Linked DNA regions of Homo sapiens. The protein of the gene in region 3 interacts with the protein of the main gene of each other region in a biochemical or structural test. Each region holds a gene or a part of one and is shown on either strand. Other genes may lie near its edges. The genes, in order: SLCO1B1, YWHAB, PTPN3, PLCB2, SAPCD1, EGLN1 and RPS6KA3.

Evidence for each region.
Region 1: the proteins of PTPN3 (region 3) and SLCO1B1 interact in a test that uses a peptide from one of them, tested with the Homo sapiens proteins (one large-scale study listed by IntAct).
Region 2: the proteins of PTPN3 (region 3) and YWHAB form a complex in vitro, tested with the Homo sapiens proteins (one study listed by BioGRID).
Region 4: the proteins of PTPN3 (region 3) and PLCB2 interact in a test that uses a peptide from one of them, tested with the Homo sapiens proteins (one large-scale study listed by IntAct).
Region 5: the proteins of PTPN3 (region 3) and SAPCD1 interact in a test that uses a peptide from one of them, tested with the Homo sapiens proteins (one large-scale study listed by IntAct).
Region 6: the proteins of PTPN3 (region 3) and EGLN1 interact in a test that uses a peptide from one of them, tested with the Homo sapiens proteins (one large-scale study listed by IntAct).
Region 7: the proteins of PTPN3 (region 3) and RPS6KA3 interact in a test that uses a peptide from one of them, tested with the Homo sapiens proteins (one large-scale study listed by IntAct).

The regions. Positions count from the first base shown.
Region 1 is NC_000012.12:21,175,978-21,180,248, reverse strand, and holds part of SLCO1B1 (solute carrier organic anion transporter family member 1B1), read right to left. Parts: intron 3,474-4,271; coding exon 3,352-3,473; intron 1,674-3,351; coding exon 1,527-1,673; intron 1,328-1,526; coding exon 1,229-1,327; intron 1-1,228. UniProt on the Homo sapiens protein: Mediates the Na(+)-independent uptake of organic anions.
Region 2 is NC_000020.11:44,898,886-44,903,156, forward strand, and holds part of YWHAB (14-3-3 protein beta/alpha), read left to right. Parts: intron 1-2,645; 5' UTR 2,646-2,648; coding exon 2,649-2,948; intron 2,949-4,012; coding exon of another isoform or gene 4,013-4,033; exon of another isoform or gene 4,034-4,271. UniProt on the Homo sapiens protein: Adapter protein implicated in the regulation of a large spectrum of both general and specialized signaling pathways. Binds to a large number of partners, usually by recognition of a phosphoserine or phosphothreonine motif.
Region 3 is NC_000009.12:109,491,292-109,495,562, forward strand, and holds part of PTPN3 (tyrosine-protein phosphatase non-receptor type 3), read right to left. Parts: intron 1-4,271.
Region 4 is NC_000015.10:40,297,391-40,301,661, forward strand, and holds part of PLCB2 (1-phosphatidylinositol 4,5-bisphosphate phosphodiesterase beta-2), read right to left. Parts: intron 4,220-4,271; coding exon of another isoform or gene 4,202-4,219; exon of another isoform or gene 3,277-4,201; intron 2,085-3,276; coding exon of another isoform or gene 2,019-2,084; exon of another isoform or gene 1,856-2,018; intron 1,839-1,855; coding exon 1,738-1,838; intron 1,575-1,737; coding exon 1,408-1,574; intron 1,319-1,407; coding exon 1,172-1,318; intron 991-1,171; coding exon 833-990; intron 570-832; coding exon 487-569; intron 216-486; coding exon 131-215; intron 1-130. UniProt on the Homo sapiens protein: The production of the second messenger molecules diacylglycerol (DAG) and inositol 1,4,5-trisphosphate (IP3) is mediated by activated phosphatidylinositol-specific phospholipase C enzymes.
Region 5 is NC_000006.12:31,760,844-31,765,727, reverse strand, and holds SAPCD1 (suppressor APC domain-containing protein 1), read right to left. Parts: upstream 3,073-4,884; 5' UTR 2,674-3,072; coding exon 2,560-2,673; intron 2,314-2,559; coding exon 2,173-2,313; intron 1,665-2,172; coding exon 1,569-1,664; exon of another isoform or gene 1,463-1,568; coding exon 1,373-1,462; exon of another isoform or gene 1,293-1,372; coding exon 1,197-1,292; 3' UTR 878-1,196; downstream 1-877. Other genes in the region: VWA7 (von Willebrand factor A domain-containing protein 7 precursor), read left to right, coding at 1-134; MSH5 (mutS protein homolog 5), read right to left, coding at 3,197-3,308, 3,543-3,616, 3,773-3,910, 4,113-4,256, 4,466-4,543.
Region 6 is NC_000001.11:231,373,324-231,377,594, reverse strand, and holds part of EGLN1 (egl nine homolog 1), read left to right. Parts: intron 1-3,495; coding exon 3,496-3,615; intron 3,616-4,271. UniProt on the Homo sapiens protein: Cellular oxygen sensor that catalyzes, under normoxic conditions, the post-translational formation of 4-hydroxyproline in hypoxia-inducible factor (HIF) alpha proteins.
Region 7 is NC_000023.11:20,172,910-20,176,409, reverse strand, and holds part of RPS6KA3 (ribosomal protein S6 kinase alpha-3), read left to right. Parts: intron 1-57; coding exon 58-160; intron 161-1,121; coding exon 1,122-1,246; intron 1,247-3,500. UniProt on the Homo sapiens protein: Serine/threonine-protein kinase that acts downstream of ERK (MAPK1/ERK2 and MAPK3/ERK1) signaling and mediates mitogenic and stress-induced activation of the transcription factors CREB1, ETV1/ER81 and NR4A1/NUR77, regulates translation through RPS6 and EIF4B phosphorylation, and mediates cellular proliferation, survival, and differentiation by modulating mTOR signaling and repressing pro-apoptotic function of BAD and DAPK1.

The DNA.
Region 1 (4,271 bases), on a different chromosome or scaffold from region 3:
ACTCAGTCAATAATTGAATAAGGTATGGATATTCATCAAAAGGAGGAATATAGGGAATACAGTGGGGTTGGAGGTAAGGTGATGAGATCAGATTTTGACATATTGTGCTTTAGGTACTAATAAGATATCTAAGGAGGGAAAATGGATGAAGAAGCACTGGAAATATCAATTAACGCAAATGATAGAAATATACCCATTTACAAATCTATAGTAAAGTAGGTAGAAATTGATTGTGTTTCACTAATAACAGAAGCAGATTATACTGGATTTAGAAGTGGATGGGAGGTGAGAAGGTGAGATATCTTAGCTAATTTAGCTGATATTTTCCTAGGTGCTTGGTTCTAAAGAGGAATAAAAAAAGGATTCAGCTGGAAAGTTGTGTGGGGGTATAAAAAACTGTATCTACATATAAAGATGGGAAATACTTGGGTGTGTTTGCTGAATAAAAGAGAAGATGGAGATAAAGAAGCGGGAAGGGAGAATCTAAGCTCCAGCTAGATCTATCAACATTGGATACAGATGTATATATTTTCCACTGAGCTGCAAAAAAGAAAAAGAAGATAAAGATAGATATGGTGCAAGAATATTTTTAGGGAAAAGGGCCTGAAGTTGAGACAGTTTTTATAACATGGCATCTCTTTCATCTATGAGATAAGAAGGAAAGTATGCTCTGAGAATGAAGAAGAAAATCATAGATTTTATTTATGTGTCCTCTGCTTTATTCCTTTGTTCAACAAGTACTTACTGAACATTGCCATACGCCAAGCCCTCTGCTAGGACCAGGGAAAATGACCATAAAATACACAGTGAAGTCTCTCAAATGACTCCAGCCATAAATCAATGCAGCAGCCACAAGAAGACTTTAGCAAAGCAAACTTTAAGTTGTACACATCAACATCCAAGCCACCATCAACTGAAAAATAAAATTTACTTGACTGGACAGTCAGTTTGGGAGGGAGACATTTTACATTTGGTTATTTTGGACCAAGCTCATGAAAATAAATTTGTTTACATTCTCTCATTTTACACTTAGTTATAAAGATAGTATAAATAGGAGCTGGATTTTATATTTATTCTGATTAGTAATACATTTATTTCCTACTTGTAACTTTCTAATTATATTAAGCAAAGGACTATTGAAAGAGTGAATTCAGTTATTTGAAAAAATGTTTTTCGCATGTGTGCTTAGAAAGACGTTATCATGGTACCTTGTTCTGGTTGTACTTACTTAGATCTACATATCCAATATCCACGTACATTTTAGAAAACAGAGATCCCAGGGTAAAGCCAATGATTGGACCAATCATTGCTATTGCATTCAATATACCTGAAAATATTATAAAGCAATTTTACTAGATGCCAAGAATGCATGGTTCTTATTCACCATGTTTTTAAAAGAAATATGATACAATACATATACCCAAATATATGTTCTAATAGGTAAAATAATAAGTTTAGTAACTCTACTATTTCAAAAGTAGACAAAGGGAAAGTGATCATACAATTTAATATTTTGTGTACATTACCTAAATACAAAGAAGAATGTCCTTCTTTAGCGAAATCATCAATGTAAGAAAGCCCCAATGGTACTATGGGAGTCTCCCCTATTCCACGAAGCATATTACCCATGAACACATATATCCACATGTATGACCCAGATTCCTTTAAACAACCTATGTAGATAAGAGAGTGTTTCATTTTAAACATTAATTTTAGCATTTCTATTACAAATTTAACTACTTGTAAACTCTTAATTATTCTACTTATTTTTTTTTAATTTACAAGTACAAGTAATTTATATTCACTTTGCAAACTTTGACAATATGGTGTATTAGTCCATTCTTATGCTGCTAATAAATACATACCTGAGACTGGGTAATTTATAAAGGAAAAGGGTCTAATGGACTCATAGTTCCTCATGGCTGGGGGGCCTCACAATCATGGCGGAAGATGAAGGAAGAGCAAAGCCATGTCTTACATGGTGGCAGGCAAGAGAGCTTTTGCAGGGGAACTCTCATTTATAAAATCATCAGATCTTGTGAGACTTCTTCATTACCACGAGAACAGTATGGGGGAAACCGCCCCCAAAATTCAATTATCTCTACCTGGCCCCACTCTTGGCATGTGGAGATTATTACAATCAAGGTGATATTTGAGTGGGGACACAGTCAAGCCATATCATACAGAAAAGCACAAACAAGTAAAAATTATCTGTAATCACATTACACACAGAAGATCACCTCAAGCTTTTTTATATATCTTCTAGATTTGCACAAAACATATACATTATATTCATTATATCCATTATATATTTAAAAATCTAGTTCATATTGTTAAATGGTATACACAGTTAACACCATATTATAACAATTGTTCCATGTTGTTAAGATTTCTTTAATATCAAAACTTTAATGACTGGACAGTAATGTGCTGAATAAGTTTCCAAATGTGTTTATTCAGTATCTTATGTTTTAATTTCTTTTTTGTTGTTTTATTCTATTAGGTTTATCATGACTATAACTGTAAATAAGTCCTTTTGCAGTTTCCTGGTTATTTCCTTAAGATTAATCAATAATAGCAGAATTTCAGACTAAGTAGGTAAGTATATTTTTGTTCTTAACATATATTGATAATGAATCTCCAGAAAGATTTACAAACGTATACACTTCCAGCAATATATACAATGTGAAATCCTTTTTTGCCTCTACCTCGTCTCTATGTATTTTTAGTCTTTTTCTATTTAATAGGTTAAAAAAATCTTTAGCAGTACAATTTGCAATTATAATTTATAATTTGTGTTATAATAGGCAAAAAGTCTTTAAATGATATAATAGTTTGCCTTTTGCAATGAAAGCAAAGTTATATTATTTACATATTTATACCATTTCCTTCTGTTTTACTTTAATGCATATATTCTTTGTCAATTTCCTATTGAAAATATTCTCTTTTCTGATCTACTTCTAAATGCTTTTACATATAATACAGTCATCCCTTGGTATATTAAGGAATTTGTTACAGGGCTGCCTGTGTGTTCTCAAATTCATGCACACTTAAGTTCTGCAGTTGGCCCTGTTCAATCCAAATATAGAAAATGTCAGATATTCTTACCGGCAGGTTTATCATCCAGTTCAGATGGACAAAATTTGCATAGAAGTGAAAACGCGTAGTTTAAACCTGTGTTGTTAATGGGCGAACTGTGTATATTAACACTATAATTATGTCTGTAAGAGTCAAATGTTTTTCCTATTCATTCTTAATTAAATTTTGCTAATGAATATCACAACAATTTTTAGAGATGTAATTAAATGTATACATTTTAGAAGACTTTTTACTGTCAATATTAATTCTTACCTTTTCCCACTATCTCAGGTGATGCTCTATTGAGTGATAAAATTTGATTAATTAAACAAGTGGATAAGGTCGATGTTGAATTTTCTGATGAATTGATATTAGTTTCTTTAGAATACCTGTAACTGTAAGAACATCACTGAATTAAACATTTTGCTTATCTACTGAATATTTTCACTTTTCCTAGAAATACAGAGAAATATTCCCCTTTATTTGCACCATTATCTTCCCCAAATTACCAGAGTACTTTCTGTCAATTTCCCAGCATGTGTTTTAAGAGATGTGATGGGTAAAAGTGAAATGGAAGTGTCCAGCAAGAAAGATAATTCAATACACCCCAGGCTAAGTGGGTTATCACCTTGCTATTATCCTAGGAGTGGTTATATCTTGGTCAAGATATGAAATATCCTAGTTTCACCTTTTTAAAAAGTAATTATTAATTGTGTGTAACCATTCATCCTTTTGAATTATCTTCAAAGATGATCAGTCTGTCAGATTTTCTTTCATGGACACATATTCACACACACGCTCTAATGTATGACTCTTCAAAATGTAGTAAAAATAAAATCTAATCCATTTCAACTAGATGAGAGAAAACTTGATAGGAATAACAGAGATGTTAATATCCATAAATAATTAGGTACCACGTGAGCTCTAAAGGCAGCCTACTGTATTCCAGGCATTATGCTAAGCTTCAAAGAGCTAGAAATAAAACACACAGTTTTTGTACTTAGGGAATTTCACACTAGTATAAACATAGATGATAAAAGTTATAAGTTTAATATATAAGGTCCTGAGTTGTCACAAAGACAAAGGATATGATCAACTTTGCTTGGAGGTTGCGGGAATAGATCAGAGAAGACATCAACATGAGAATGACAGGTAAAACGAATCTGGAAGATGAATAGAAGGGTAGACAAAGA
Region 2 (4,271 bases), on a different chromosome or scaffold from region 3:
GCAGGCAGATCACCTGAGGTCAGGCGTTCAAGACCAGCCTGAGCAATGTAGTGAAACCCCACCTCTACTAAAAATACAAAATCAGCCGAGTGTGGTGGTGCATGCCAGCAGTCCCAGCTACTCGGGTGGCTGAGGAGAATCGCTTGAACCCAGGAGGCAGAGGTTGCAGTGAGCCGAGGTTGCGTCACTGAACTCCAGCCTGGGTGACAGAATGAGACTCCGTCTCCAAACAAATAATCATTTTCAGAGCCTTAAATTGTGATACCATGTATGTAGTAATGAAAGAATTTGTTTTGAAAATACTGGCATTGGCTAGGTGCAGTGGGTCACGCCTGTAAGTCCCAGCACTTTGGGAGGCCAAGGCGGGCAGATCACCTGAGTTTAGGAGTTCAAGACCAGCCTGGCCAAAAATGGCAAAATCCCATCTCTACTAAAAATACAAAAGTTAGCTGTGCATGGTGGCACGTGCCTGTAATCCCAGCTACCTGGGAGGCTAAGGCAGGAGAATCACTTGAACCCTGGAGGTGGAGGTTGCAGTGAACCGAGATCCCACCACTGTACTTCAGCCTGGGTGACAGAGTGAGACTCTGTCTCAAACAAACAGACAAAGCACACAAAAAAACCTGACATTACTACTACTGTTTAAAGTAGCATTTCATGTTTTTATAGCTCAGGATATTAGTGTATTTTTATACTGTGTGGCACAGATTGATATATCAATATTTAAACCAACAGTACATAAAATTAACTCTTCTTGTTTAGTAAATAACTTTTCAATTATTTTATCCAAAAATTACTTATTAAAATTACCGCACTCTGTAAATGGTGATTATTGCAGTGGGGAACTGACTGTGGTGAGTTGATAAGAGATATTCACTGATTGGCATATGGATTTGATAAATTGATAAACTGAAGTCACTAGGATTTTTGTCTATTTCAGAAAAACTTTAAATGAACTCAGTTATGGTTCAGATGAATTCAGTTATGGTTTCAAGTTATGTTGCTGTACATCTTGTTATACACCCCTTTCTCTTGCAACCTATACCATATACAAAATTAGTGCCTGATATTTTTATATAATGCTTTATACTTTTTAAGGTGCCTTCACATGTATCAGGTCTTTTGTTCCTCATAACAGGCCCACTAAAAGAGTTGGTAGTGTTCTTTCTTTTTTTTTTTAGAGACAGGGGTCTCAGTTGGTTGCCCAGGCTGGAATGTAATGGCACAGTCACGGCTCACTGCATCCTGGAACTCTGGGCTCAAGTGATCCTCCCACCTCAGCCTCCTGAGTAGCTGGGACTACAGGTGCACACCACCACACCCAGCCAATTTTTTCTTCTTTTGTAGAGATGAAGTCTTACTATGTTAGAGACTGATTTGCCAGGATAATCTTGAACTCTTGGGATCCTAGGCGTGAGTCACCACATCCAGCCCTGGGTAGTGTTCTTATTGCCCAGTAGAGACCGAAGCTCTCAGGTTAAGTGATTTAACCAAGGTCATGCCACTTGTAAGTAAGTAGCAGAGCTAGTGCTAGATAGAGCCCAAGTCTGACTGCCCTTAGTTTATGTTCTTCCTGTGCAGTGTGTCCTAGTAACAAAGTTAGCAGATTACAGAAGATGTGATATAATCTTTCCCATCCTTCAGTTATCTACTGCTTGATGGGTGCAGCCAAATAGATCATTTAAAATCATATCTTTTGCTTCAGGATTGGTTGAAACAAACATCATACTTACTCTTTCCTGTACTATGGAAAAAACAGGTTTAGTCAAAACCAGAGTTGCTTACAGGACAGTGAAGAGAGGACTTCCTGTATTACAGGATACAGTTGGATTAAGGTCATTAAAACAAACCAGACAATTACTGAGAGAAGTCAAGGACATATATATAGTAAGCATAAACTTTTTTTTTGAGATGGAGTCTCACTCTGTTGCCCACGCTGGAGTCCAGTGGCGTGATCTCGGCCCACTGCAACCTCTGCCTTTTGGTTTCAAGCGATCCTCCTGCCTCAGCCTCCCCAGTAGCTGGGATTACAAATGCCTGCCACCACGCCTGGCTAATTTTTGTATTTTTAGTAGAGATGGGGTTTCACTGTGTTGGTCAGGCTGGTCTCGAACTCCTGACCTCGTGAATTGCCCTCCTCGGCCTCCCAGAGTGCTGGGATTACAGGTGTGAGCCACTGCACCCGGCTAGTAAGCATAAACTTCTAAAGAAATAGTTATTAAGCAGTCTGTATGTGCCAGGCAGGTGAATTAGGCTAATGGAAGAAAACAAAAGCTCTAGAGCCAGATAGATGTGAGCTGGAGTTCTGGCTCTCCACCATCTATTTGCATGTTGCTCTGGGCATATCACTTGCCTTCCCTGACCCTCCATTTCTTCACCCATAAGAAGGGGAAAGTTGTTGTTATGAACATACCTACTCTGGGACTGTTGGGAAGATTACTGGACCAAAATAATATAAAGGCCTTAGCAAAGTACTTAACCCTAGAGGTGTTTGATATATCATCAATATTGTTGATGGCATTTGGAATGAGATGTTTCACATTTAGTATGCTGCTTTCCAGATGGGTTGGAAGAAGATTCACACACGTTTCCTAGGCCCCGAAACCTGACATTTGCTCTTTCTTTTTCTCTTGCTCTTGTTCTAGGGAATGACAATGGATAAAAGTGAGCTGGTACAGAAAGCCAAACTCGCTGAGCAGGCTGAGCGATATGATGATATGGCTGCAGCCATGAAGGCAGTCACAGAACAGGGGCATGAACTCTCCAACGAAGAGAGAAATCTGCTCTCTGTTGCCTACAAGAATGTGGTAGGCGCCCGCCGCTCTTCCTGGCGTGTCATCTCCAGCATTGAGCAGAAAACAGAGAGGAATGAGAAGAAGCAGCAGATGGGCAAAGAGTACCGTGAGAAGATAGAGGCAGAACTGCAGGACATCTGCAATGATGTTCTGGTAAGAGGCCAGTGCTTCTGTTTTGAACAGTGGTTTCTAAATAGTATTAATTTAATGTATAAATGCAGACTCTCAAAACAGCTTATGAGAGAGAGGTGTCTGAATATACTGGAAAGCTGCCAGGTATTTACAACTAATTTTTAAGCATATGATATAATTTGTGTCACCTATTGCCTGATCAGAGGTTGTACATCACTTCTGAGATACTTTCCTCTCCTATCAAAAAGACCTGTGAAAAACAGTGACATTTTTTCAGCCTCCCTCCATCTTTTAAAATTGAGGCCAGATAGACAGGATTTTAATAGATACAGCTACAGATAGGCTATTGTGTATATTAGTCAGAGTAGTGATGTCATCGCCAGTAGGGGAGGGAGATGAAAAAGCTGAGCTGCCTTTCAGCCTCTCCCCAGTCATGCCTTCACACTGTAAAGTCCTGCTTTGGTCTGAAAGTTAGGCACATCCATCAAGTTCGGCATGCATTCCAGAGCCAAATTCAAAGTGTTTTGGGCATTCTCCTCTCCTGTATTTTACATAAACCCTTAGTCAGATGATTGATTCCCTCTGGCCGCCACTTGGGATTGAATGGGAGGGGTACGTACTCCAAAACAAATCATAATCATATTGTCTTTCCCGCACATCCTGAGCCATTGGGAACTTTCTTTTTCTTCCAGGTGAAATCAGGTAAAAATGAACTCAGCGAGGGCTGCTTTGAAGGGAAAAGGAATTCACACTTGGGGACCTACCACCTTCCCTGCTGGCTGCCTTTCTAAATTACTGCCCATGACTCCTTTCTTTTGAAAACCAGTATAAAGCTTGTCAGCCATCAGGCAGCACCCCTTATCCCTAACCTATTAGGAGTTACACACTGTCTGTCTACAAAGAATATTAAAACGACTGCCGCCCCCTGCATCTTCTCACTTTGGTTGATTAAATCCCCTTATAACTAAGCTTTGCATTGAGCTTCTCTTTTTATTAGACTCATGGCGTAAGAGTGTCATGACTAAATTTGTTGCCTGTTGGTAATTTGGGGGTTTGTTAATGGTGCACTAATTCCTGAATGTTAGGTACATCTGGTATTCAGATGAAGTATGTCATGCATTCCAAGGGCAAGAAAGTTCCATAATTCATGAAATGTAGACCAACTTTTAAGAGCATCTGAAAGAATGTGAAGAAGAGCTTGGTACTTACTGCCTCTTAACCAGTTTTTCAGGATGCCACATTCTAAAACAACTCTTCGAAAATATTGCTCTGTATACGAAGCTTGGACTCCTTCAGAACTACTTTTGTTGTAAGCATAAATGTTTAAAGGAATTTATTATTAAT
Region 3 (4,271 bases):
AGTTACGGAATATCATCGCTTTTAGGAAATATATGTAGGGGGAAAGGAGGCATTGATAAATAATCCTCAAATGGTTCAGGATAGATATATATGTACACAGGGATAAAATAAAAAGAATAAAATGGTAATGTTTGGGGAATCTGGGTGAAGAATTTATGGGACTTCTTTGATTTATTCTTACAACCTTCCTATGGGTCTGAATTGTATCAAAATAAAACATTAAAAGAAAAAAAAATAAAACTTAGAAAAAGTTTTTTTAAAAAAGAGACCCTGCCTTCACACAGCTTACAGTGTAGCCGGGAGACAGGTACTAATACAAATAATTACATTAATTAACTGCAAAATTGCCACTAGGAAAAGTGCTATAATGGAGAGAGATCTGGTGGCATGAACATTTATAGCAACAATTTAACTCAAGTCAGGAAGGTGAGCAAAGGCTCTGCAATCATGGAGCTGAGACCCACAGGATGAAGTAATCAGTGGGGAGGGGGAGAAGGTCCCAGGCTCTTGCAGTCCCTGCAGCAGGAAGGAGCACGGTGAGGTGAGGGCTCAAAGAGCATGAACATAGGGCCTGCAGGAGATGCTGAGAGATCAGCTTTGTCTTCATTTTGAGAAAAATAGGAGTGTATGGAAGACTCCCCCGTCTGTGGAGTAGAGAATCCACTGGAAGCAGGAGAGGGCATGTGCAGATCATGGCAGTGCTGACAGTGGACCAGCTGCTTTCAGAGAAGCATCATGCATAATTTTTCTTGTGTTCCCTGACACTTTATTTTCTACAAGAACCATGAATGCATTTGATAACCAGAGCAGGGGAGGGGACTCGGGGGAGCCAGTGGGGAAGACTGAGCTCAGAGGCCAACCTCCCCTCCCCAGGCCCAATGGTGGCTGGCGGTCAAAAAACAGCTGATGGAGCTGGTTGCTGCCTCCCTCACCGAGAACCTCTGGGCTAGCCCTTGAGCTGATGTGGCTGAGGGAGGTGACATGCATGGGCCAGGTCTCCAACCCCACTCCTACGCCAGGGGACCCTCATCAGCACAGCATTCAGGCAGCCATGGCCCCTGCACAGTCCTGGATGCTCCCTCTTGGAATATCCCTTCAGTCCTGAGAACCGGGACCTGTGGTCCTGGCTGAGGAGGGACCTTCACTCACCCACAGCGACTCTCAGCACTGAACACAGATCAAAGCACTTGTCTGGAGGGTCAGGGGTCTGACCACAAAGTGAGGGACCCCTTTTCTATGCCAAGTTTTGCCTTAGTTTTCCACATTAGCTCATTGACAACAGTCAACTTAAAGGGAATAGGTGCAATTATGATCCTCATTTTACAGGGTGGAAGTTGATTATACAATTTGGGTCATTATTGTAATGCCCAACTAAATCAGAGTTGAGAGGCCAGGGGAAAAATACTCAGGGCACATAACATTGCTCCAAAAATGTAATTCTCTGCAAGCGTGGCTGCTAAAACTGCCTGTTATAACCTAAAACCAGTTTTATTTAATAACTACTGAAACAAATTGCTGTGACCCTAAGACTAGTTTTATCTGCTACCATCATGCAACAATCAGAGCTTGCCAGCTCCCGAAGAGCTTCTCTAGTGCCGATGGACTTTTTTCAAAACAATACATAATATTTCTCATTCTAATAAAACTCCCAACATTCTCTTTGTTTTCCAAACCAAAGACCACCTAGTCTGTATAGATTTCCCAAATTATTATTCTTACTTCCCAAGCAAAATGTTTTAAATTTAGAGAAACATCTGTTTTTATATTTTATTTGACTTTGACAACAGATGATTTGTCTAGGCACAGACTTGGGTTCAAATGTTGGCTGCAGCCAGGCACAGTGGTTCACGCCTGTGATTCCAGCACTTTGAGAGGCTGAGGCAGGAAGATCAGTTGAGCCGAGGAATTCAAGACCAGCCTGGCAACATGGCGAGACCCTTTCTCTATATTTAAAAAACAAACAAACAAACAAAAACCAAAAAGACAAATCTCGGCTGCACTGCTTACAAACACTGTGCTCTTTGGTGGTTACTTCATCTCTCTGAGCCTCAGTTTTCTCACCCCCTCTGTAAAATGGGGCTGGAAGGAATCAGTCAGATTTTGAGGCTAAAATGCACTGTTTGTTCCCTATGGGGGCTCAGTAAAAAAAATTCACTTCACTCTACACTGCTTAAACATTTACTAAAAGCTTGTGTATCCTAACAGTAAATCATGGGACCTCAATTTTCCAGGACTATTCCAATTTCAAATCCTCTGTCCTAACTTTCCATATAAACCATCAAAATGTTTCAAAAATTCCACTCTCTCAGTATCCAAACACTTCTCAGGCCTCCTCTTGCACAAAGCAGTGGCACACACATTCTTTTTTCACACTACAGATCCCGTTCTTTGGTTCAGAAAACGCAGTCAGCACAGTCCTGCCGGTCCCCTAAAGGAAATGGGGTCAGTGCTCCACTGCAATTCAGACTGGGCTGTTTCCCGGCACATCTATGTAAAGGCAGCCAGGGGGAGGCCGGGCCACAATCAGAGCATCACCCACAGAGGGACATACACTGGGCAGAGGAGTTCAGCCCCCACCTACTTGTACCTGGGAGGCAGCCTGGCGACAGGGTTGCTGTGAAGATTAAATGAATTAAGTTACTATTTGGAGAGCACTCACAACAGTGTGTGGCAACCAATAAGTACAGATTAGTGCTGATAACTAAAACCAGAGGCATCCCTGCAGAAGTTACTCCTGCCTCAAAGACAACACAGTGGCATTGCTCCCATCCAGGTGAAAACAAGGAGAATAGGCACTTAGCCCTGGGCTAGGTGAGGCCTGGCCCATGTACAGAGATAAAGCAGACCCGAACCAGAGCAGGTGGGTTCTGCATTAGTGAACACCAAGAGGCTGGATTTGGCTGGGTGCGGTGGCTCACGCCTATATCTCCACACTTTGGGAGGCCAAGGCAGGAGGACTGTTTGAGCCCAGGAGTTCGAGACCAGCTTGGGCAACATAGTAAGACTTTGTCTCCACAAAAAATAAAAAATTAGCTGGGTGTGGTGGCACATGCCTGTAGTCCCAGGTGCGAGGTACAAGGAGGACTGCTTGAGCCATGATCGGGCCACTGCACTCCAGCCTGATGACAGAGTGAGACCTTGTCTCAAAAAACAAAAAAGACCAGGTTGGACTTGGAGAAGAATCACCACGCCTATGATCCACAAAGTCTCTTCATGCCTTTGCCCCTGCTGTTTTGCCTGCCCTAAATGCCATCTTGTTCCTAAGTTTGAGGCTTAATTCAAATTATGCCTTGAAGTTAGAACTAACTTCTCCCCATGGTTAGAACTACGCTCCACAGTGTCTCCTGATGCCCATCGGAATGAATGGCTGCATCCTCTGGTGTCTCTTGCACCTAGCTTATCCTTTTAAAGTACTTACAGGACCATGGACAGATGGATGGGGACGCACATACACATATACAAACTGTCTTTCCAAATCCACCATGAATCCTTCCAAGGCAGGGGTTCAGCGTTCACCTCTGTAGCCCTATGGCCTAATACATGGTAGAGACTCAATAAATGTCTCAATTTGCTGTTAAATCTGTGCTCACACCTGGTCTTGGAATAACAAGTTAACCTGGGGGCAGTGGGAAGCTTCAGGTGCACACACAAGCAGAAGCTCTGGAGATGCAACATTTCTGGGTCTTAGAACCCATTACCAAATCAGTTTTCAGCCAGGGGCTTACCAAGCACTTCTCAGGTCCTTCTCGGCCAGAGGAAAGAAGACATCTATAAGATCAGGCTCTGAGGTCACCTGGACCCAGCCAAGAGCAGTGTGGACACTGACCTGGTCTCCTCCTGTCTCTATTAGAGTTGGAATGAAGAGCTGATGCTGGGTAGGCTACTGCACCCCCACCAGCCCTTCCAGACCAGGGTATGTGCTGGGTGCCTTCAGCATTCCAGCTTCTACAACAGATCTTGGGAAAAGATAAAGAGGCATTGTCCCTGCTTTCCAGGACCGCAATGCTGGAAGGTGAGCTCTCCTGGGAAAAGATGTAGGGACCACAAATTGCTGGTCTTTTCTCAACCACCACAAACCCGGAGGGTTGGGGAAAGGCAGGGTGCCATGTCTTCTCACTCCCTCCCATCCCCAAAGCTGAGCCCTTCTGGTAGGTTATGCCTGTCCTAGAAAATGTCTCTTGTGTGCCTGGACCTGTAGTTCAGAAGGTCAAAATTGGTCCCTCTTGCTCCTGGCCCCACTCTACCTTTGCCAGCTCAGTTTCCTTATCTGC
Region 4 (4,271 bases), on a different chromosome or scaffold from region 3:
ATCCCAGACCCGCATCTAACCAAGTGAACCCTAGCATCCTCTGGGAGTGTCTCCCTCCCTAACCTGGTTCTCACCCTGCCCCAGGTTCCCAGGCCCAAGGCTCAAATGTCCCACAGCGAAGCCCACTCACTGGGAACTTTTCCAGGGGCTCTGTGAGCAGCATATCCCCAAAGATCGTCCGGCAATACTCAGCCATCTTAGCCTGCTGGCGGGGTCTGCGGGGAGCAAAAGCGGGGATGGGGTTCAGCCGCTCAGCACCAACCCTATTATGCATCCTTTTGTGCCCTTGATGACCCAGATCAGGGGCCAGGAGGTCAGGGAGGCTGGGACTCGAGCAGGAGAACATGAGGCCTTAGGGTGATTATACTGAGACGTGGGAGAAGCTGTAGGCAATGGTTAGAGGCTGGGGCAGTTGTGGGGAGGACAGTTGCAGACAGGAGACTGGGGGCTGGGTGAGAATGTGGCTGAATGGGCCTGGATACGCACGAGTCCACATGGTTCTCAAACGACAGGATGATGGGATAGGGGGAGGTCTTAAAGGCGCTTTCTGCAATAGCCTCAATTGCTTCCTGGAGGAGAAGGAGACTCCATGAACAGAAGGTCAGCGTTCCGACTGCCTGTCTCGTGATAGCACTTTTCCCCCCTGCCTAGTTTCAATACACACATATAACTGCATGGCCGCCATTGGCCCCCAATCCCTGCTGGTCCCCAATGGTCTGAGGCCTTCCAGCCATTCATCTTCTCTAGCTTCAGCCCTCCAACCCCTCAAAGCTTCTGGCCCAGAGCCCTTCCCTACTGCCACGGCCACCAGCCTCTGTGCCCAGGGTCTCACTTTGAAGAAGATGTCTGTGGTCATGGTGAAGCCATGGGTGATAATGGGCTCCTCGTCAGGGGGTTTCCCCTTCCAGCAGTCTAGCTCCACGCAACGGCAGCCAGAGAGCAGCACCTGGCGGTACATCTCAGCCGAGGAGAGGCCTGAGAACTGGCCGGCTGAGCCAGAGGATGGGGAAGAGGTGAGGGCATCACCCAAAGGCAGCCCAGCTCTCCCCCTACCGCCACTCCATCATGGTCTGTGTTATTCTCAGGGCCAGCAGCATGTGGGCAACCCCTGTGGAGGATGCAGGGAACCCCTGTGAAAGCAGAGGTTGGCACCAATGTTATCAGGGCCCACCTGTCAGGTAGGTGTTGTGGGACGAGTTGATGAAGTAATGATTGAGTGGCTGCGTCATGTCGTGGTGGAGCAGCAGCTTGTCCTGGGCCAGCACGCTGTTCTCTGGCCCACAGAGAAACCAGACCATGCCTTCAGGTGACAGCTGGCCTGGGGGACAGGAGATAGCTGTCAGGCTACAACCCCGCTGCCAAGGCAGGACAGGACCACAGGGGACAAGGGGTTCCCTTAGTCCTCACCCCTCTGTGCATTGATGCCACTGGGCTCATACTTGTCGATGAGGCCCTGCACCTGGTCAGGCCGTGCTGGCGGGAACAGCAGGGAGTTAAGCCGGGAGTCCCGCTGTTTCTGGTTGATGAATTTGGTCAGGTGCTCCTTCGTCATGTAGGGTTTGGCCTTAGCATGGCTTCAAGCCAGAGAGAAGAGCACAGGTCCATATCCCTTGGGCCTGGAGGCTTAGACAACCCCCTTGTCCAGTGAAGCCTCCTGACTCCCGGCATGGCAGGTGGGAGGAGGGGATTGTTAGCCACCACCCTTTTCCCATGACCAGCACAACCCAAGAAACTCACTAAGAAGTGAAGATCTCATCTATTTCTGGCCGAGGACAGAGGCTCATGAGGAAACTCTTGTAGACAGGTTCTGGGAAGTCCTCAGGATTGATGGCGTCATTCTAGGGGCATAGTAACCTTATTGCCCCTGCCCTCACCTTCTCAGAGCTAAGAACCACAAACTCGGCCCAGCCCTGGTCAAGGGGACCTGGTCAGAAGGCGGGCTCAAGGCAGACAGAAGAACTTCAAGGACACCCAAGCATCCACTTCTCAAGGCCCTGGTTGCTGAGCAGAGAGCATGCTTAGCTGGTTTGCTCTGACCCTGATTTTGTACAGTGGCTATTCCATTGGCTGGGGCAGGATCGGAACTAAGAATAACCAGAATGAGGTAGAAAAGAGGTCAGAAGAAATGATGCTGCTTGCCAGGCTAGTAGGCTATCTTTTTTAAGTGGAGGACAAATATTCAAAAAGAAGCAATTTGAATATAAACATATATGCACCTAACAACAGAACCCCATAATATATAAAACAAAAACTGATAGAATTGAAAGGAGGACAATTCAACAATAATATTTGGAGACACCAAAAGCACCGGGACAAAGAAAGATAAATTAAACGTCATCAAAATTAAAAACTTTTGTGCTTCAAAGGACACCATCAAGAAAGTGAAAAGGTAACCCACAGAATGGGATAAAATATTTGCAAATCAGATATCCGATAAGAGATAAGTCAACAAAAAGACAACCCAGTTGAAAGATGGACAATGGATTTGGACAGGTATTTCTCCAAAGAAGATATATAAGTGACTAATAAACACAGAAAAGGTGCTCAATATAATTTGTAGTTAGAGACATGCAAATCAAAACCACAATGAGATACCACTCCCACTAGGATGGCTAAAACAAAAAACAGACAATCACAAGTGTCAGCGGGATGTGACTAACCTAAAACCCCACACAGCACTTTGGGAGGCCGAGGAGGGTGGATCACCTGAGGTCAGGAGTTCGAGACCAGCCTGGCCAACATGGTGAAACCCCATCTCTACTAAAAATACAAAAATTAGCCCAGCATGGTGGCACATGCTTGTAATCCCAGCTACTTGGGAGGCTGAGGCAGGAGAATTGCTTGAACCTGGGAGGCAGAGGTTGCAGTGAACTGAGATCACGCCACTGCACTCCAGCCCGGGCAACAGAGTGAGACTCTGTCTCAAAAATAAATAAATAAATCCCTACACAATGCTCTCACTTTAGAAAACAGTTTGGCGGTTTCTCAAATTGTTAAATATAGAGTGACCACATGACCCAACAATTCCACCCCTGGGTATATACCCAAGAGAATTTACACATGTTCACACAAAATCATGTACATGAATATTCATAACCAAAAAGTACAAAAAACCCAAACATCTACCAACTGATAAACAGATGAACAAAATGTGGTATATCCATACAATGGAATATTATTAGGTGGTAAAAAGGAATGAAGTACTCATGCATGCTACAACATGGATAAACCTTGAAAACATTATGAGAAATGAATACAGCCTGACATCGAAAAGCATATATTTATGATTTCATTTACTTTACCACCAGAATAGGCAAATCTATAGAAATAGAAATGAAAAGTACATTTGTGGTATTCAGGGATTCTGCACCTTTGCATTCCTTCCCCCCCCAAAAAAAACATTAAATGTCTTTCAGAATCACACTGGAAGGCCAACATCAGTCTTAGTTTGGAGCAGAGGGTCTGAGCAGGAGAGTCTAACTGGATCTCCCCAAACCCCTCCCTGTCTCTGGAGCTTCAGCTCCAAGCAAAGTTGGGTCAGTAGCCTCTACTGAGACACAAGGAAAGCAGATAGATAAGGAGGACTTAGCCAAGGGAGGAGCTCAGGCAGCAGGAGAGAGGGAGGGTGGATGTGTGCTGACCACAGGTAAGTGTTGCTGGCTGTAGGGGAGCCGCAGGAGCCCATTCCTACCTCTCCCCAACGCCACATTTGGATCCCTGTGACTGACTGCATCAAGGAGTCACCAACTCTGCAGAGCTGTGGCTGTGGGGTAAATGCTCCTCCTGGGATTCATGTGGGCAGGTGATCAATGGGGGTCGTGGTTTTATTTATTTATAACGTTCCAAATTCTTACCAGGAGAAAATACTCCATGGGGTATAGGCTGGGACCCACACAAGAGCACTGGCCAAGCAGGGACAGGGGCTGAGATTCGCTCCATTGGCCAGGCTTGAAGCCTAGCTCAGGGCCATATCAGCCCAGAGGGCTCCTTTTTGTAATTCACACAAGTTGCTTCATGGGGTGACCCTGCTTACAACTTGTAATTAAAAATTAATTATTTAACTAAAAAGACAGGGAAAAATGCTTTTCTGTACAGAGCAGAAGTCTGCATCTTGGCAGCTTCCGCCTTTGGTTCAGTTCCTCTCCCTCGACACGCTGCAGACTTCCAGATCCCTGCAGACTGCCGCCTGCCACTGCCGACCTTATCTCGCTCCTCCAGGCTGAAAACATTCACGCTCAGCTCCCATTCCCAACACTAGACTGGGAATGCAT
Region 5 (4,884 bases), on a different chromosome or scaffold from region 3:
CCACGGCCACCCCTGCCTTTTCCCCCTTCACATTGGTGACTCAAGGCAGGGCTGGGGCAGGGCTGGCTGCGGGCAGCCCCTGGTGGGGCACAGTTGGAGGGGTGCTGCTTCTGCTAGGCCTGGCCTCCTGGTGACACAACGGGCTCTAAAGGGATGGGTCTCCAGCACTATTTTCAACCTGCCCCATTGGTAAGAAGACCTGGGACACATTTGTCACATAGGTCTTAGGACCTTACCTCTCCTAGCTGGGATGAAGGTTTTCTCTTTTTTGTTGTTGTTGTTTTTTTTTTGAGATGTAGTTTTGCTCATTGCCCAGGCTGGAGTGCAGCGGCGCAATCTCGGCTCGCTGCAACCTCTGCCTCCTAGGTTCAAGCGATTCTCCTGCCTCAGCCTCCCAAGTAGCTGGGATCACAGGTGCCCGCCACCACGCCCGGCTAATTTTTTGTATTTTTAGTAGAGACAGGGTTTCACTATGTTGGCCAGGCTGGTCTCAAACTCCTGACCTCAGGTGATCTGCCTGCCTCGGCCTCCCAAAGTGCTGGGATTACAGGCGTGAGCCACCGTGCCCAGCCAATGAAGGTTTTCTTTCTCCATCACATCCCTTTCCTTTCTTAGAAACTTCGAGACTGGGGCTGGGTGCAGTGGCTCACGCCTGTAATCCCAGCACTCTGGGAGGCTGAGGCAGGAGGATCACTTGAGCCCAGGAGGTTGAGGCTGCAGTGAGTTGTGGTCGAACCACTGCACTACAGCCTGAGCGACAGTGAGACCCTATCTCAGAAACAAAACAAAACAAAACACCCTGCAAGACTGGGATAGAGGGCAATGGATATTCCCACAATGCACTTTTCCTAACCCTATGAGAAACAAACCAAAGACATTTTTGGAGAAAGCTGCTTTCTGGAGCAGTTTCAGTTTTATTTTTGTATTTAAGGCTGAAGGACAGTTTCAATAAACATGCTTCTTCCCAGAGGGATTTCAAAGAAAGATCGTTTTTGCATGTCATATAGGGGAGAATGAGGACATGAGACACCAAGAAGATGAAGTTTTCAGGAGCAGAGGAGAAACTTTACACCAACATGTCTGAACTTCATTGACTCACTACCTGGAGCCATTTTTTAGCTGTTGAGTTAAGAAACAGAAAAAGGAGCCTGGGGCTTCTGACTCTTTCACCAGGCTTAGGGGAGTGAGAGGAGGGTTTAGACACGGGTAGGGCCTCTTGGCCCCTTGGTGCAGCCCCGCTGAGCCATCTCCTCCTTTGGCTGGGTGACTCCTTTCTGCTGCCTTGACAACTCCTGGAGGAGAAACAGATGGGGCCTCTGGGCTCCTCCCAGCCCTGTAGGGTGGGGCTCCTGCCCTCCTTCTTGAAGTTTACCTGTTGCTGCCACAAGTTCTGCTCCCTTCGTCTTTCCTTTGAATCCTGGGTGGTGCAGGAACTAGCCTTGTTCAGTGGACTTGGGGAGAACTGGAGGGGAAATTCGCTGTGTTTTCTGTTAAGCCAGCACTGACCCCAACAACTCCCCTCTCTAGTCCAACTTCCCAAAAGTCTAAACTGAAAACAATAAACTCACCTTCTCATGAATCAGATTCTGCAAACAGATGTTCACCTTTTGAATCTGGGCTAACGGGGGGCGACCAGGCTCTGAGTGTAAATCTGTTAGAAAATTCTAGAGGAGGAGTTGGAGGCTGACAACATGGTGAAAACCTGAGGTCGTCTGCCACTCTATTCCTGTCACCACAGGCCATCCCTCTCATCTGGATCCCCTCGTCCCAGTACCCTCCCAGGCAGGTGGGAAAATCCAGTACTCTCCACCTCCATCTCTTTAGCACATCAGTTCCTCCATCTCCCTCAAATAGCACAATACCCCCTTTCACTACTCTTCATGGAGCCTCCCTGTCCATCCCTGCCCCATTGGAATAATCCAGGCCACACCCTCATCTCCATGGAGTGATCCAAATCCCTCTGAATGGAATGCAGACCAGCTTCCTCCAGCCCCAACAATGAACACCAACTTAACACTTGGTGGCATCCTGTCATTACGATGCTGCCTCCAACTCATGATCCCTGACCATTAACTCTCCCCTCTCCAGAGTGGTCTCAGGCTGTGTCTACACATTCCCTGTTCCTCCCTCCCTGGTCCTCCCCCCATTCACACAGAGGGGCAGCCCCCATACCTCACCAAGGGCCCCTAGATGCAGCTGCTGTCGCTGTGCCTCCCTCAGATGGTCTTCAAACCAGGCCTGGCCATGCTGTAGCAGCTCCAGACCCTGCCACAGGGCATCCTGTTCTCTCTCCAGAGCCTGCATCCTGCGTAGCTGGGAAAGGCAATCACAGAGGCTGACTCTCACGCCACAGTAGGGCTCTGGGTTATGGCCCTTTCTCTCCACCCCTAGTTGGGTTCACTGTGTGGTCACTGAGTGTGAACCCAGACTGGCCACTGAGGACCTGGAGGGCAAGGGGAGGCAGGCGGGAACACTGTGGGCCCTCAAGTTGAATGGAAATATAAAGGGCAGATCTATTGAGAGAGTTCCCCTGGGACCTCTTGTTGGGCTGATACTCACCCAAAGGAAGAAGCTCTGGGCCCCTGGGTCTTGGCGGCTTGTCCCCAGCGGCAGCAGCAGGACTGTGTAGGGAGCCTGCACCAAGGGCACCCCGCCAGAGCCCTGGCTCCCCATGGCTCTGAGGTGGGAAGGGTGGAGCCACTCCCACTGGTGCAGCCCGGGCTGGTCCCTCCCCTCCACCCCTGCCTTGCACCCATCCTGCCTCTGTCAGCCTCTCAGGCCCCTTCCTGCTGTGTCTGTCTGAGGCTGGGGTGTTCCTACTTGAGAAGAGAGACCATCTCCCTTGGACCCCTCTGTCTTCCCTCTAATCTGTTTTGTAGGGCCTCTCTGAAGGGGTTCGTTCTCATGAAGTATCCTGGGGTAGAATCCGGGAGTCTTCCTACAGCAACAACACTGTATTTTTACTGAGGCAGGGCAGGTTCCCCTGTGGACTCCTGCTCTGTGTTTTGGATCTTTCCTAGTCTCTTGTTTTGAGACTAAAGAAACAATATCTTTCTTCAAAATAAACTTTATTCCTAATATGAAACAAAATTTCTAGAGAAACTAAAAACTCTGCGTCTGAGGGAGATAAGGAAACAAAGAGGGCATGGCAGCCCACCGGAGTCTCAGGAGGCTGGGGAGGACACTGGAAGGACTCTCAGAGGATGCTGGTGGCAGCAGGCAGCACTTCCTGGCTCATGAAAACGTTCAAGTCCAGGTTAGGATCTTCCAAATCCAGTTTCATAAACTTATCCACTAATGTCTGGCAACTGAAGAAGAGAGAAAATCGCAAGATTTATGGCAGAATGGACAACCAAATCCCTGGGCAGAGGGGAGAGGCTGTGGCACAGAAAACCTGGGATCTTGAAGATTTAGGGATTTCAGAAAGAAATGGTGGGTTTCTGAAGGGCAAAGTGCTGGAGGAAGGCTGAGTCCCTGAAAAGGGGAGAAGAGTTGCAGGAGAAGATGCAGAGAGGGTAAAGACACTGGGGCCATATACGCACTTTTCCATTTGGTTCTTCTTTAGCAAATCCTTGACAGGCTTGATGGGTTTTCCACTGCGGATCAAGTCTGAGACCTAGGAACAAGCAAGAAGGTGGGAGGAGTAAGGGGAGTGGGGAAGAGAAGGGGAAATAAGGGTCAGAAATCCTGTGGACCTAGACCCAGGCCCAGTAGGACTAGGAATGAAAGGGAGCTCTGATGTGGAGGTGGTTGCACATTTGGATCTCATCACCTCCTTGCCACGAGCCACAAGCTTGTCAGGAAGCCCAGCCTGGGCAGCTGTGTGGGAGGCATGGCTGGCCTTCGCAACACCTTCGCAAACCTGATAGAAGAAGACAAGATCGTTGCCATCCTCACAGGTCTCCATGGTCTTAAAAGAGAATAAAAGACAGTGTATCATCAATCACCTCCTTCCTGTCCTGAAACCCTTGGCCAATCCTGTGGGGAGGGAGAAAAGGGAAGGGATGTGGTCTCTGTGCTGAGGGAGCCCTTGTTCTGATAGAGGAGCCAATCCCCACCTCTGGGAAATGCCCAGCCTGGGGGTCCCCGAGGAGCTAGATTGGTCTCCTCACCAAATACTGCACCAGGGGCCCTTGTGGCAGCAGTTGTAGCTGAACAAGGCTCAGAAAGTTGGTGGCCACAAAGATGTGGGGGCATGTGGGTCCACGTGCCAGCCAGTGTCGGAGCACAGCGGCCAGAAGCGCGAGCCCATCCACCTGCAAAGAGGGCAGAGGTTAGCATTCGGAGCCATGGGGACCCCATATGCCCCTCTGCACTTGCACTGCCTTTCCCTGTCTCGTGTTCTATTTCTTTTCTGCCCACACAGCCCTATTCCATTCCAGAGGCCCAGCCTCACTGTCATGCTCCTTCATCCTCCTCCATTTTCCCCTCCTTAGTTTCTCCCCTCATCAGTTTCTCCCCTCACCGTGTTGGTTCCCTTTCCAAATTCATCAATAAGGACCAGCGACTGTGCAGTGGCATTGTTCACTGCTTTCGCCACCTGCTGGGTATAAGGTGGACAAGGGAAAGTTAGTATTGGAAGCCCGTAACGCACTGACCACAGTTGGCCTGTGAATAAAGCTGTATACATGCCCTCCCTACTGCACTGCAAGTTCTTGAATGGTGAGGTGCACGCTTTGTTCATCCTCTTTGCCAACAGTGACTCACATGAAACAAGGGTTCAAGAAATGTTTATGGTATTGATTCTTCTTATCTCTGACCTTAGTGCTCCCCACTTTTAGTATAAAGGGCATGCAGCAGAGGGCATGCTTTCCTGTTATGAGCATTTTCAGGGGTTCCTTTCCCATTATCCCCTTCCTCAATCCCACCTCCCTTTGTTCCCTT
Region 6 (4,271 bases), on a different chromosome or scaffold from region 3:
GATGCTTGTAATTAAAACTGCTCTTTCACCTAGTGTTTCCATTTTCATGTACAGTGACTCCATTCATTTACTTACCTAGGCTGAAAACCCCGTAGTCATTCTTGACTCTTCTTACTCTCCACTCATTAGCAAATCATGTTGGTTTTCTGCCTTCAGAATACACCCCACTTTGCTACTCTGGGCTCAGCCTCTTTGGTTTCTTGCCCGGAAACTTTAATAGCTAACTTAGTCTTCTCTTTTCACTCTTTGCTTCCTGCAGTCTAGTACAGTGGTTAATTCCATGGGTTCTGGAACCAGATTCCCTGTCATGTGACTTTGCGAATACTAATTAGCCTTTCTAAACCTCAGTTTAGAGGAATGAGGATGAGAACAGTGATACTGTTTACCTCACATGGTTGTGTCAGACAACTTGTTATGCACAAATTACTTAGATAGGACATGGCAAACAGTAAATGTCCCATAAATGTTAGGTGGTAAGAGATATTGAGGTTGTTGTGGTTGTTTTTATTCATACAGACTTGAAACTGATATTCTCAAAACATTAGTCAGATACATTCTCTGTTGGCTTCCTGGCCCTTCTTAGCACAATATCCAAAGGCCTTCCTGTGGCTTACCAAGCCCTGCAGCTCTAGGTTACCTGGTTCCTCTCTGATCACATTGGCCCGTGCTCGCTGTGTTCCAGCCACACTGGCCTGCTGCTCTTTCCTGCCTTGTTCAGCCTTTGAGCACTCATTTTCCCTCTGCCACATTGCTCTCTCTTCAGAGATTTGCCCAACTTGCCGCTCCCTTCATTTAAGTCTAAACCCAAATGTCAACCACTGTTCAAGAATATCATGTCATCTTTCTCTATATACCTAATTTTTTTCATATCTTAAGAAAATACAACTTTTCACTACCTAACATTACATTATATATCTGTTTATTGGCTAATTATGCTGTTAGACCAGATTTCATAGTACAATAGTCCCCTCTTATCTGAGGGCAATACCTTCCGAGACCAAGTGGATGCCTGAAACTGTGGATAGTACCAAATCCTAATATACTATATTTTTTCCTGTACATACATACCTATAATAAAGCTTAATTTATAAAGTAAGAGATTAACAACAACAGTAAAATAGGACAATTATAACAGTATGCCAGCATCGCTACTCTTGCACTTTGGAGCTGTTATTAAATAAAATAAGGTTTCCTTGAACACAAGTACCACGACGATTGCTCTGATGACCTAGAAGGCTACTAAATGACTAATGGGTGGATAGCATCTACAGTGTGGATATGCTGGACAAAGGGATGATTCATCCCAGGCAAAACGGGGCAGGACTGCAAGGTATTTCAGTGCACTACTCAGAATGGTGTGCAATTTATAAACTGTTTATTTCTGGAATTTTCTATTAAATTTTTTGGACTAAGTTGACCAAAGGTAACTGAAATCACAGAAAGCAAAACTTCTTATAAGGAGGGACTATGTAAATGAGTGCAAGGGACCTTTTCTCTTTGGTTCATCGTTTTAGCCCCAGTGCCTTTCATATACATAGTCGATGTTCAAGAGGTATTTGTTAAATGGATATATGGGATGTGATGGGGTGAGTGACTGACAAATATTTTCCCCTTCCTTCTTTACACAAGAGATGCTGAAGTTACCAGATAGTTGGAAAGGCCCAAATTAACTTTTTTGAGATGTAGAGTTCAGGTTTCCCCCTTCTTTCCCATGAATAACAATATATTGTGTAATTCATCATAATTACTTCAGTTAACCACAAATGGAGTAATTGCATTGTTAAATTAGTACCCTCTTACAGTTACTATTCAAGGTAAACTTCTTTCCTGGGTAGCTAGTGACAAGAAAATCATTTGGGCTCATCATTTATTGAGCACTTAAACCCACTAAGCCCATGCCACACTCCTGGTTGTTACCAACCTCCAGTGCTGAAAGAAGGAACTTGTTAAGTCTGTCTGGAATCAGGAAAAACAGAGACATATATAATGTTCTCCAAAAATTCTGCTGCTTATAAAGAGCAGTGAATTCAGAGTGTCTAGGGAAACAGGATTTTTAAATAAGGATTTAGGTTTAAGATGCCTCTTAGTTTCTTAGGGATGGGAAGTGAGTTTTAAAAATTAGCATTTTTCTTTTAATATGATAGTAGAACAATTCGGTTACTGTTTGATAACTTTATACTAATTCATTGACTTTATTATATGAAGAAATAAAGGACTTCAAGAATAGCTCATAACAAACCGGGTGGCGTGGTGGCTCAAGCCTGTAATTCCAGCACTTTGGGAGGCTGAGGCAGGAGGATCACTTGAGGTCAGGAGTTTAAGACCAGCTTGGCCAACATGGTGAAACCCTGTATCTACTAAAAATACAAAAATTAGCCGGGCCTGGCAGCATGCACCTGTAATCCCAGCTACTCGGGAGGCCGAGGCAGGAGAATCGCTTGAACCTGGAAGGTGGAGGCAGTGAGCTGAGATCGTGCCACTGCACTCTAGCCTGGTCAACAGAGCAAGACTCTGTAAAAAAACAAACAAAAACAAGAATAGCTCATAACCTTGAACGTCTTTGTTTGTTTTCTTCATAATTCCTGAGAATTTTTTAAAAAATACCATTACCAATTTCAGTTAATTATCATGTACACCTAGAATATGGAAGTTATTTTGTGCTTTTTATTTTGGGCCTCTTTTCTACCTTTAAGCTTAACATCCAACAGTCTTCTGAACCATATCTTGTTATAATCTGAGCAAATAATTTTCTTTCTGATTGAAAGAGGGTAAACATAAGCTAATTTGTTTAGTCCTTTTTTTAAAAAAAAATCACTGACACTAAATGAGTTAATGTTTGGAGTTTAGTTGACCTCCTAAATTATCCCTATTACAACATAGTAAGACACCATATCTACAAAAAATACAAAAATTAACCAGCCTGGTGACACGTGCTTATAGTCCTAGCTACTTAGGAGGCTGAGGTGGGAGAATCACCTGAGCCCAGGAGGTTGAGGCCGCAGTGAGCCATGATTGCATCACTGCACTCGAACCTGAGCAACAGAGCCAGACCCTGTCTCAAAAAAAAAAAAAATTGGTACCATTCAGAGACAGTGTCAGATGGGGTGTTGACTGGGTTGGTTCACCTATCAGATGGTAAAGTAGGTGTTCTGAGGTGAGCTCAAGGAAGATTGAAATCTCCCATGGAGCAGGACAAAAACGTACTTGATCTTGATTATCTGTATTTATAAAGATTGTCAAAGTAGGACCAAGAAATTTTTCTGATCTTTGGAGTTATCACTGTGAAGCAGAATTCACCAGTCCTTGTTCATCAACCTATCTTGTGTTCCCTATAAATGTTAATGTAGAATAGCCTTATCTTATCTACAAAATATTATTTTTATTAGAAGAATCTAAGTGTAAATCAGTAGCCAAAAATCAGAGATCTGATTTATTAGCTGTTCTCTCTTTTTATTTATACATGGACTTTAATAATCATTATTATCATTATTACAGGCCATGGTTGCTTGTTATCCGGGCAATGGAACGGGTTATGTACGTCATGTTGATAATCCAAATGGAGATGGAAGATGTGTGACATGTATATATTATCTTAATAAAGACTGGGATGCCAAGGTATGCAACTTAATTGAGCATTTATTTTTTTCTTACAGGTGTCTTTTTCTCAAAAGCATTAAGTTTCATACTTCTGATAAGACTGTCACAGACACAGTTAAAAATTTTCCTCTTAAATTTGTTTCAGTCTCAGGTATTAGGAGTGGATTTTTGTAAAATGAAACAAATACTACTCTATGTTATACAACATGATACCTGTAGTTAACAACGTAGTGTTGTGCACTTAAAAATTTAAGAGGGTAGACTCCATGTTCAGTGTTCTAAACACACACACATACACACACACACACACACACACACACGCACACACGAGGTTAGGGGAAGGGAAACGGAACTTTGAGAGGTGATGGATATGTTTATTACCTTGGTTGTGGTGTGTCATGAGGGTGTGCGTATATATCCAAACTCATCAAATTGTAAATGTTAAAGATATGCATTTTTGTATATCAGTTATACCTCAAAACCATATAAAAAAGTACTGATATATCTTAAAAAGTGGATTCATTTATTTTCAGATGTTAGAGCACTTATCTAAAATCTAACTTTTTTAGAAAGGTGACCTTTATTAAAATATTTTCCTTTTAATAGTTTTTAGAAAAACATTTCTGAGAACAGTTGTTTTATAATGGCTTTTGGGGGAGATTATCTATGGATAA
Region 7 (3,500 bases), on a different chromosome or scaffold from region 3:
TGAAATATTTCTTTATAATTAAAATATGTCTAAGTCTCTTTTTTTTTTCCCCTCCAGAAACTGTATAGAAGAGAAATTCATCCGCCATTTAAACCTGCAACGGGCAGGCCTGAAGATACATTCTATTTTGATCCTGAGTTTACTGCAAAAACTCCCAAAGGTAAGGAGAAAATGTGAAAATCCAAATATAAGACAACAAATATGTTTTTTTCTTGTTTCATCAGAAAATCTTTTCCAGACTCTGGGCGCGGTGGCTCACACTTGTAATCCCAGCACTTTGGGAGGCTGAGGCGAGCAGATCGCTTGAGGCCAGGAGTTGGAGACCAGCTTGGCCAACATAGTGAAACGCTGTCTCTACTAAAAATACCAAAATTAGCCAGGTTTGGTGGCATGTGCCTGTAATCCCAGCTACTTGGGTGGCTGAGGCACGAGAATCGCTTGAACCTGGGAGGTGGAGGTTGCAGTGCATCAAAATTGCACCACTGCACTCCAGCCTGGGTGACAGAGCGACACTCTGTCTCAAAAAGAAAAAAAGAAAATCTTTTCCTGGATAACTCTCTAAGCTATCTTCACATCTCCTAAATTTGCTGTAGATCAACCTTGTATCTCCCCTGTTCCACCCCAACTAGGTTATTATTGAGGGCTGCAGTTTCTAATATGGTAGCCAGTAGCCACATGTGGCTAATTAAATTTAAATTAATTAAAATTTAAAGTGTAGTTTCTCAGTCACGCTAGGCACGTTTCAAATGTCGAAAAGCTGCATGTAGCTAGTGGCTATCAGACTGTAAAGTTAAAGAAAATTTCCATCATTTCAGGAAATTCCATGGGACAGCATTAATTTTGAATACCATTAACCCTATAATTCATCGATGTATTATAGTCTTCAAATGAATTAGCTATTTTCTAGGCTCCGAGGGACTAGGATGTTGGTGTTGTAATGGCAATACACAATCAGAACAGATCTGATACAGTGCCTCACAGGTATCCTGGAAAGCAAGAGGTATATACTGTGTACCTGAGAAATAGAATTCCAGAATAAGTGAAAAAGGTCATAGTGTCAACAGTTTTTCCCTTAATTTCCTTTCAAATGAATCTTCTTTGTCACTTCTTACTCTTTTCAGATTCACCTGGCATTCCACCTAGTGCTAATGCACATCAGCTTTTTCGGGGGTTTAGTTTTGTTGCTATTACCTCAGATGATGAAAGCCAAGCTATGCAGACAGTTGGTGTACATTCAATTGTTCAGGTGAGTGGATGTCTAAATAATTTTAGATTTGGAATGTTGTAAGATATAGTTCATTCTGTGAATAGATCTTTTTCTACTGACTTCAAGTGAGCAATTTAAAATACATTTTAGACTGGGCATAGTGGCTCACACCCGTAATCCCAGCACTTTGGGAGGCCAAGGCAGTTGGATCACTTGAGGTCAGAAGTTCAAGACCAGCCTGGCCAACATGGTGAAACCCCTATCTCTACTAAAAATACAAAAATGAGTTGGGCATAGTGGCACGTGCCTGTAATTCCAGGTACTCAGGAGGCTGAGGCACAAGAATCACTTGATTCTGAGGCAGAGGTTGCAGTGAGCGGAGATCGCACCACTGCACTCCAGCCTGGGTGACAGAGTTGAAACTCTGTCTCAAAAAATAAAATAAAATACATTTTATATCATTAACTTTACTCTTAGGAATTTTTTTCATATGTCATCGAAAAGGTTGCAAGAACCAAAATCCTAGATACCTATGTGACTTGAAAGTAGAGTTTTAGGCCAGGTGCGGTGGCTCATGCTTGTAATCCCAGCACTTTGGGAGGCCGAGGCGGGCAGATCACAAGGTCAGGAGTTCGAGACCAGCCTGTCCAACACAGTGAAACCCCGTCTCTACTAAAAATACAAAAATTAGCTGGGCGTGGTGGCGCATGCCTGTAATCCCAGCTACTTAGGAGGCCGAGGCAAGAGAATCACTTGAACCCGGGAGGCAGAGTTTGCAGTGAGCCGAGATCCGCCACTGTACTCCAGCCTGGGCGACAGAGCTAGACTCTGTCTCAGAAAAAAAAAAAAAAAAAAGAAAGTAGAATTTTAAAAGAGTTGAGATAAACATGACGATGTTGTCTATATCCTCTCCTGTGCCTCAAAATGTTTTTCATGCCGAGTTTGTTTCACCCTCTGCCTCCTTCAGGTCAGCTATGATGAATTGAGGTCTTCTGGTTCTTTGATGCCTTAGAACAGGAGTCGGCAGACTTTCTCTGTGAAGGGTCAGATAATACTTGAGGCTTTGTGGGCTATATGGGCTGTGTCACAACTACTCAACTCTGCTATGTAGCACAAAACAACCACAGACAATACATAAACAAGTGGGCATGGCTGTGCACCAATAAAACTTTATTTACACACACAGGCAATGAATCAGATTTGGCTCACTGGCCATAGTTTGTCAACCTTTGCCTTAGAAAAGATACAAGAAATAAAAATGAACTCAAATCTTAAGTCATCTTTCTAATCAAAGGGAACTCGATATATCTTTTGAAGCATTGGATTCTTTTTAGGATATCATTTGTACTTGGATTTGCTTGATGATTAAGTTGCTTTTGCTCTAAAGTTTTTTCATGAGTCAGTTATCCTGTTTTCCATTTTGTAGAAAAACAATTAAAACACTGGTTTTTAAGCAGAGCTCATGTTGAAATAGTCTGTGCCATTTACTATGCAAGCACATGAATGTATGGCAAGTTTTTAAATTACAAATTCTGTACCTAACATAGAAACCACAAACTTGTATATCCTACAAAATTCAAGTTTTAACATATACAAAGCTCATAGGCATGGATGTCTCATATCAGTATAGCCAAGGGCAGCACAACTTTCCTCAGCCTGTTTATGGAATCAGTAAGTTGCTGTTCATCATCTACTGTGTGTTATTAGTCCCTAACCCATGACGAGCTTCTTTAGCATAAGTTGTGTAAGGCTATGACTTCAGGGTGAAGAAAGGAGGGAGTGGCTACTGAAAGTCCAAAATGGCGATAACAGGTATTGCTTGCAAATACATTATTTTTATTTAATCTTCACCATTACCCTCTGAGAAAATACAGGCTCAAAGTTACATAGCCTGTAAGTGGTGTACCTGAGACAAGAATTCAGATATTCTAATTCTGAATCCTCCTAAATCCTTTCCTTCTATACCATAGGTTTCAAACTTCTCATTTGCAAAGGTACTTGAAAACCTATAGCCGACTGGGGACTGGAATAAGGCTGAATCACAGACAAAGATGTAGGCCCCATATCAAGTAGCTCTGCTTTTTCTGTTGTGCAAATTCAATTTTTGTTTGTAACATAAGCTTTTTTAAGTCATATTTCTTGCTGTACACTTCATTGTAAACACTTTCAAAATCACTTGTTTGTAGAATAATAAGTACTATAAAGATGTATTTTTATTCTTATTCATTTATATGTAGGGCATCAACAATGCATGCTGAGTAACATACTTCCCTATTATAAAATGCACTAAAGG